Linked DNA regions of Homo sapiens: region 1 is linked to region 2. The links come from fine-mapping of genetic effects on gene expression. A gene starts in region 2. The other region holds a variant in brackets. All regions are shown on one strand. Distances are between the middles of the regions. Region 1 overlaps USP9X (ubiquitin specific peptidase 9 X-linked). Region 2 holds the start of USP9X (ubiquitin specific peptidase 9 X-linked).

Evidence for each region. PIP is the estimated chance that this variant, and not a neighbour inherited with it, causes the effect.
Region 1: its variant is the best candidate, but not a certain one, in a credible set for the expression of USP9X in skeletal muscle (GTEx, PIP 0.53).

The regions. Positions count from the first base shown.
Region 1 is chrX:41,215,843-41,220,364 of GRCh38, forward strand. USP9X (ubiquitin specific peptidase 9 X-linked) reads left to right here. Exons shown (of 45, transcript NM_001039591.3): 35 at 57-810; 36 at 1,378-1,501; 37 at 2,530-2,755; 38 at 3,260-3,389. Among named protein-coding and RNA genes, the nearest start is that of LINC02601, 58 kb to the right of the region's middle. The variant A/C (reference allele first, on the strand shown) is at 2,100.
Region 2 is chrX:41,083,283-41,087,282 of GRCh38, forward strand. It overlaps USP9X (ubiquitin specific peptidase 9 X-linked), which reads left to right and starts at 2,163. Exons shown (of 45, transcript NM_001039591.3): 1 at 2,163-2,827. RefSeq lists enhancers at 1,114-1,408, 1,158-1,697, 2,236-2,773 and silencers at 1,318-1,387, 1,818-2,197, 2,898-3,357.

The DNA of each region.
Region 1 (4,522 bases), 130 kb after region 2:
TTTTTTTCCTGTGGATTTTAATAGAACATCTGGTAACTTTGTCTTGTTTATTTTAGGTTGATACCGTAAAGCGCTTGCTGATTAAAAAATTACCTCCTGTTCTTGCTATACAACTAAAGCGATTTGACTATGACTGGGAAAGAGAATGTGCAATCAAGTTCAATGATTATTTTGAATTTCCTCGAGAGCTGGACATGGAACCTTACACAGTTGCAGGTGTCGCAAAGCTGGAAGGGGATAATGTAAACCCAGAGAGTCAGTTGATACAACAGAGTGAGCAGTCTGAAAGTGAGACAGCAGGAAGCACAAAATACAGACTTGTGGGTGTGCTCGTACACAGTGGTCAAGCGAGTGGGGGGCATTATTATTCTTACATCATCCAAAGGAATGGTGGAGATGGTGAGAGAAATCGCTGGTATAAATTTGATGATGGTGATGTAACAGAATGTAAAATGGATGATGACGAAGAAATGAAAAACCAGTGTTTTGGTGGAGAGTACATGGGAGAAGTGTTTGATCACATGATGAAGCGTATGTCATACAGGCGCCAGAAAAGGTGGTGGAATGCTTATATACTTTTTTATGAACGAATGGACACAATAGACCAAGATGATGAGTTGATAAGATATATATCAGAGCTTGCTATCACCACCAGACCTCATCAGATTATTATGCCATCAGCCATTGAGAGAAGTGTACGGAAACAGAACGTACAATTCATGCATAACCGAATGCAGTACAGTATGGAGTATTTTCAGTTTATGAAAAAACTGCTTACATGTAATGGCGTTTACTTAAACCCTCCTCCCGGTGAGTATCAAGAGAGTTTAGCTTCTTAGTAATAAAGAATAATTTATAGTAGGCGTCAACATGTTTAAGTTCATAAAATTAATGTTTTCACTTTAAATGAGTCTAATTTGCTGGGTGTGGTGGTTCACGCCTGTAATCCCAGCACTTTGGGAGGCCGAGGTAGGTGGATCACCTGAGGTCAAGAGTTCAATACCAGCCTGACCAACATGGTGAAACCCCATCTCTACTAAAAATATAAAAATTAGCCAGGCATGGTGGCATGCACCTGTAGTCCCAGCTACTCCCTGTAGTCCCAGCTACTCCGGAGGCTGAGGCAGGAGAATCGCTTGAACCTGGGAGGTGGAGGTTGCAGTGACCCAAATTGATGGCCACTGCACTCCAGCCTGGGTGACAGTGAGTCTCCATCTCAAAAAAATAAAATAAAAAAATAAATGGGTCTAAATTAAAGTAGCCTGAGAAGGGTTCTTAACAAATTTAGGACTTCTCAAAATTAATGGAAACACAGACTTGTTTGAAAATGGGGTTGGAAAATAAAAATGTGTTTTTATATCTGCATTTTATTTATAGGGCAAGATCACCTGTTGCCTGAAGCAGAAGAAATCACTATGATCAGTATTCAACTTGCTGCTAGGTTCCTCTTTACTACAGGATTTCACACAAAGAAAGTAGTCCGTGGCTCTGCCAGTGATTGGTACATTGCTTTGGATTTTCATTCCTATTATACTAATGTTTGGTTTGCTTCTTTAATAGATTGCTTTATGTTTTTCTAAACCAAGAGAATTTTGTTTGAAGTTTGGAATATAGAATAAAAACTCTGGGTCACAATAGAGAAATCATATTAAAATAGTTACTTAGTCTAAACATGGCCTTTTGTTATTCAGAAGCTGACTTCTGCTTCTATTACCTTGTATCATATCTTTGACATCCCTGCACCAAAGACTACAAGCTGAGACTGGGGGACAGTGACTCACACCTGTAATGCCAGCACTTTGGGAAGCCAGGGTGGGAGGATTGCTTGAGCTCGGGAGTTCAGGACCAGCCTAGGCAACATAGTGAGACCCCCATCTCTTCAAAGAAGATTTTAAAAATTACCCAAGTATGGTGGCGCACACCTGTAATCCCAGCTACTCGGAAGGCTGAGGTGGGAGGATCGCTGGAGCCTGGGAGGTTGAAGCTGCAGTGAGCCATGACTGTGCCACTGCACTCCAGCCTGGGCAGCAGAGCAAGACCCTGTCTCAAACAAAACCAAAGATTACAAGATGAGACTGAAAAGTGTAAGCTACTTATGA[A/C]ATTTATTAGGTTTTAGCTTACCTAGATTGAATTCTGACACCGATTAAAAGGGTAAAAAATTAAAATGGTTTTCTTAAGTTTCTAATTGTGAAAGTATAGAGGCCATTATGATACATTGATTTAATAATTTTTACTTACTCATTTCAGGAATATGTCAAGATAAGGGGGTGGTATTTTGTCATTGAATCTAGGAAGAGTTTGTTAATGGATTTTTAGAGGACAAGCTTTCACCTGTTTGGTAACTCTGAGAGAATAGACCAAGTCATAGTATTTATCTATTGTTTTAATATTAGAAGCAACCTTTGCTGGTTCTCTCCAGCAGTAGAGGAAGATCTTTGTCTTTTTTTTTTGGTTCAATGAGACTCATCCTTTTACTATAGAGAACAAGTTATTGACTTAATAGTCATAGGTTTTTTTGTTTTATTTTAGGTATGATGCATTGTGTATTCTCCTTCGTCACAGCAAGAATGTACGTTTTTGGTTTGCTCATAACGTCCTTTTTAATGTTTCAAATCGCTTCTCCGAATACCTTCTGGAGTGCCCTAGTGCAGAAGTGAGGGGTGCGTTTGCAAAACTTATAGTCTTTATTGCACATTTTTCCTTGCAAGATGGGCCATGTCCTTCACCTTTTGCCTCTCCTGGACCTTCTAGTCAGGTAATTGCACAGCTTTCTTTCTAAATGATGAGATGTTTACAAATAAATTGTGTTTCCTGGAAGTCGAAGTCACAAGCATATGTGCATCCACTTGATATGTTTACCTAACAGAAACACACAATATGATGTCAGTGAGTTCCATTTAATATTACTGCATGGCAATGAATAGTAATTATTGGCTCTTTAAAAATGTAAGAGAATTTTCTCTGTTCGGTTACATGCAGTAGCTTAATTATAAGTTTACTGTTAAGTAGATTTTTTCCTATTTTGAAGGTTTTTTAAATAGTCTTAGATTTTTTTAAAAAATTACAAGTGTAAAAAATTATAATGAAATCCGCCTCTGATCTTCATTCCCTTTCCCAAGAAGCAAAATAGTTTAGTTTGTGTGATCAGTCCTTCCATAAATGTATGCCTGTATCAGCATATGTGCATGTCCTTTTTATGCAAGTAGAAGTATACATATACCTTGTTGCTGTAAAACAGGTAATGTTTTATCCTTTACAGGCTTATGACAACTTAAGCTTGAGTGATCACTTACTAAGAGCAGTACTAAATCTCTTGAGAAGGGAAGTTTCAGAGCATGGGCGTCATTTACAGCAGTATTTCAACCTGTTTGTAATGTATGCCAATTTAGGTAAGAATTTAAGTTTTTCAGAATTCTGTTTTGATGTATCATATTAAATTGTGAAGTCATTTAGGTCAAGTGATGAAATATAATCTGATCTGAAGTAGAAACAATTTCCCATAAAACCTGTTGTGAATTTTATCTGAACATGGCACTTTCACCTTTTACTTTGTTTATGCATGTGTCTTTGTGGTAGACACAGGTCAGAATCTGTGTTTTGATTTTTTTTTTTTTTTAATCTCCTAATGCAGTGGTGCCAAATCTGGCTGCTTTTGGAAAATACTGGTTTCTAGGCCTCTTCTCACACTGATTGAATCAGCATCCCCAAAGCTAATGTCAGGGAATCCATGTTTTCAAAGGGGTCCCCAAATGGTTGTGATACTCACCAAATTTAGATAGCAGACTTGGTCTGTACATAAGTTTTTGTTTAAGTAAACTACAATTATGGATAATATAAATACTCGCTTAAAATATTAATTTAGGGGCCGGGCACAATGGCTTATGCCTGTACTCCCAGCACTTTGGGAGGCCAAGGCAAGAGGATTGCTTGAGCCCAGGAGACTAACCTAGGCACCATAGGGAGACCCTATCTCTACAAAATAAAATTTTAAAATTAGCTGGATGTAGTGGCATATGCCTGTAGTCCTAGCTACTTGGGAGGCTGAGGTGGGAGAATCACTTGAGCTAAGGAGGTTGAGGCTGCAGTGACCCGTGATTGCACCACTGCACTCCAGCCTGGGCAACAGAATGAGACCCTGTCTCCAAAAAGCAAACAAACCAAAAAGTCATATATCCAAAATGAAGTTCTATATCCAGGCGTACCTGTCGTTTCAGGTTTTTTTTCTGTGATCTTACTTAATCACCATTGGATCCATGGCCCTTTTAACATAAGGGAGATTGTACTTTTCATTTGTCTATTTAGTTTGTCTTCTTTTCCCTTGTCTTTTCCGTAATTGCAGATATTTGGGTATTTGTAGATGAGAAAGAGAATATTTATTACACAGACAAGCATAAGTGGAATCTGTATTTCAAACTTAAAAATGCCAAATTTAGACATTCAGAAGAATCCTATTCTGTTCAACTCTTTTAGATATTGCCTGTTCACAAAGCACACATCATTGTTCCATAATGTAACCTACTTG
Region 2 (4,000 bases):
TTGTTTATTGCTAGTGTGTAAAACTATAACTGATGTTTAAATATTGATCTTATATCCTGCAGTTTTGCTGAACTTGCTTATTGGCTTTATTTTTTTTATAATGGATTTCCCAAGATTTTCTATATATAAAATCATGTCATGTGAAAGTAGCGATAGTTTAATTGTTCCTTTCTTATCTGGATGCCTTTCATTTCTTTTTCAGGCTAGAACTGCAAGTACAATATTGAACAGAATTGGTGAGAGGGGACATCCTTGTTAAAGGTGCACTTTTGATAGGGTTAAAAGACCAGTGTTCAACACTTTCCAATCCTGACTTCGGGCAAATCATTTACCCTTTCTGTTTCCTTATCTAAAATAGAAAATAACAGCCTATAGTGTACGCGGGTGGTCGTGTCTGCTTTTTAGAAGCCCATGAGCTAGTGGGGAAGCAAATGATTCATGGAAATAATTATAAAAACAAGGTAACATATGCTAAGAGTTATTAGGGCTATGAATGATACATCTTGGATACCCTATTAGATAATTTGTGGTGAAAAATTTGTAAACAATCTTGTGCTAAATAGAGAAATGGTTTAAAAATTTAAGATACCAATAACTTGCTTTCACTGTCACCTACATTAGTTTGGTTCCATTTTTAACAGTCTTTTATTACAAACTGATATAATCATAGCATAACTAAATTCAACCCTCTTCTCTATAAAATAGATCTCGGTTTGTAGGGTTTTACTATGATTTTGCATGCCATTTGATGTCCACAGGTATTTTTTAAGTCAAAAGGAAATCTGTAAATTAGGAACTGTTAATTTCCTCTTCATTTGGGCATCCTAGGTAGACTGTACAGATTTGTTCCAAGCACCCCATTAATTTGAGATTAGCCTAAGTTTTTCCTATGCCCGCACTTTGGAATATAAACATGTAGAAAATAGTCCATGACACAGCGGATGGGTTCATAAGTTTCTTCCGGGTCCTAACACCGAATTGTGCTGATGATCTGGCAATGGAGGCTAATCTTGCCACATCAAGTACGGCCTATTCGCTAAGCCGTCTGGGGCACTTTATAATTTTTTTCTTTGCTGGTCTGTTTGAAGGGCTCCTATGGCCAAAAAGGTGGTCAGTCCCGTCAGCTAGGCTGTGAGGACGCCTAAACGCTTTGAGGACGCCTAAACGCTTTGAGGTAGTGATGATGCATGATCGTGTGAAAGAGTTTCTCAGAGCACCTCCCTCGCGGGGTGGGGAAAAGGACCTCACTCCCCACGCCCCCTCCTTCCGCTGCGGGAGATAGCCACACCTTCCCCCTATCGGCGCCAAGCAGGTGGCCAGGCCCTCGGGACCTCGCGCCCCCGCAGCCAGTGGCCCGGCCAGCTCGTGCGTCACGTGACGCGGGTCAGCTGCACCGCCGGGACCTCCAGGCACCGCGGCGGCGACCGCCCAGCGCGTGGTCTCGAGATCTCATCTTTCCGCGCCCCTCCCCCCACGGTCCCGGAAAAGGGGGAGGCCGGTGACGTCATCATCCGGGTTCTTGTCGGCGGGGCTACGGTTCACAATGGAACAAAAACAAGCGGCCCGAGTCAAACTATGAGCGACGCGGCTGCGGCTCACGCGATTAACCCTGTCGTGGCCACACACCCCGCCAGTCCCTGCCGCCCAGCCCCTCCCGAGTGGTGTGCCAGATCTTTTCGGGCCTCCCTTCCCCAACTTCGGTCCTAGAGCCACCTCTGCCCTCGTCCCGCTCCTGAGCCGAGGGGCATGGAACAGGATTTCTGGCCGTAGCACGACCCTGAAGGGGCCAGCCGGAAGAAACAGTACTGCGCGAACAATCTTTACCGCATTGTCTTCCCCTCCCCCACCCTAGCTCTCCGGGTTCCCGGCGGCTCGCGCCGAAGCCCGGCCCCCTCAGCGGCTCGCGCTGCTCTCCCAGCCTTGACGGCCCGGGGTGGAGGGAGAGAAGAGGGGGCAGCTGAGCGGGAGGGGGCTGGGCAGGAGCAGGGGGAGGGCCGAAAGGAGGGGCCTGAAAGGGGCGGGCCCTGACGGGGGCGGAGAACTTCGGGTCTTGGGCGGCTCTGGGGCTAGTGGGAGTCTGCGCCGCCGCCGCCGCCGCCACCGCTGCTGCCGCCGTCGCCGCTACCGCCGCCGCCACTGGCCGAGCGGTTTTTTTTTTTTTGGTTTGCCGGATCCGCCATATTGACGAGGACGGGCATCCGCGGCTGCGGACGCTAGTCTCCGCCGCCGCCGGAGCCGCAACCTCTCCGCACCCGGCCCCGTCAGGGCCTCTGTCGCGCCTAGCCCCTCCCCGCCTTACACAGCTCCCGGGCCTCGCGGGAGCCCGCCGCCGCCGCCTCTCTCTCACGGGAGGCGGCCGCCTTAGCGCCCGGTGCTTGGGTCGGCGCCGGGAGCGAGGAGCGAGCTACTTCAAAGCCACCAGGCCTGGAGCGGGGACAGAGGCGGCGACTAGGGGAAGGTGAAGCCGTCGCTGCAGGAGGAGGAGCAGGAGGAGGTGACGCAGGAGAAACGCACCGCCCGGAGCCCGTCTGAGCTCAGCGAGAGCCCCAGCCTGAGGGGAGAAGGGGAAGAGGGCCGTCGCCGGCCAAGGAGGAGGAGGAGGCGGGCGCGGCGAGGAGCGAGTTCCGGCGCCGGTGTGCAGCCTTTTGGTTGAGACGCCCGCAGCCCCGAGCCCGGCCGCCGCAGCCTTTCGATACACTTTGTTGCCGGTCACCCCCGGGCCTGGGATGCACCCAGGGTAGGTCTCGTCCCGGGACCGAGCCCCACCGTCGCCTGGTGCCTCCCGCCTCCGTGTGCCCTGGTTGTGAGAAGACGTCTGTGTCGTGCGGTGAGTGGCCAGCTGCACTGGGGCGACGCTCTTTCCCGGGGCCAACAGCTGGATGTGGGTGAGGGGAGGAGGGCGAGGGGGGTGTGCGTGTGTGCGAGCCTCTTCCCTCGGCGGCTGCCGGCCAGGCTGGGGCTTCCCCGTTCCCCCTCCTCCGGCCCGGGCTGGGCGGGCGCGCGGGCCCGTGTTGTGTGTGGAGCCGGTGTCCCGAGAGCGTGTCTGTGTGTTTTGGACTGTAAGGGAAAATGGCTGACGGCTCCGTCCCTCCCCCTCCTCCCCCTTCCCGTCCTGTCTGGGGCCGAGTAGGAGGATGGAGTCTCCGGGCGTGGCGGGCAGCCCCCCCGCCGTCCGCACCCGGGGGCCGGGTCGGTTTGGGGGCTGGCCGCCCCCCGCCCGGCGGCCGCTTTCCTACCCGGTCTGGTTCCACTTGACACCAAACGCCATTACTGAGGTGGAGTGATTTGGAGCTGGGGAGCTAGGCCTCGGCTACGCCTGGCTATCAGGCCTGACGACTTGTCCGCCTCCCCCCACCCTCCCGCGATAACCCGCAGTTTCTCCCCGGCCCTGGGCTCCTGGAGTGGGAGCTGGGTTATCGGCCTCCTACACCTCCTTCGCCCCGCTTTATTTGCAGAGGGCCAAAGCCGTGAAAGGGGTTTTTGAATGCAGAAATCGCTTCCAAGCTAGCTTGGACCTATTACCTTTCTATTTTTAACTGTTTCTGCAAATATTAGCATGTGCGAGTTTGGTAGTGATCAGGTCTTCAGATTCTTGTGACGTGAGGCTTAGGGTTGGATAAATGGCTGATTTTTCATTCATTGTGAAATAAGTTAAAGAGTTATACAGCAGGTGTGTAGATGGCTTCTTAAATTATTTGTGTGGATTTCTGTAGCGACTAGAACTTACACGAGAATTTGCAAAATTTCTAGTAGAACCTGCTTAAATTAAGCATGTTATTTTTTGGAAGTTCCATAGTTACAACGTTAATTGAATTTACACGGTGCAGTTTACAGGTGTATATAATTGCTTCAGATTGTCTTTTAGTTTAAATAAGCAAGTTGTAGGTATAGATTAAATATTCATGCTTTATTTTTCGGGGAGAGAAGTATGTGTACTGTTCTTTTACCTGGAAACCCATGAGTCCCTAAATCTACTTAACGTTTGTATACTTTCACTTTT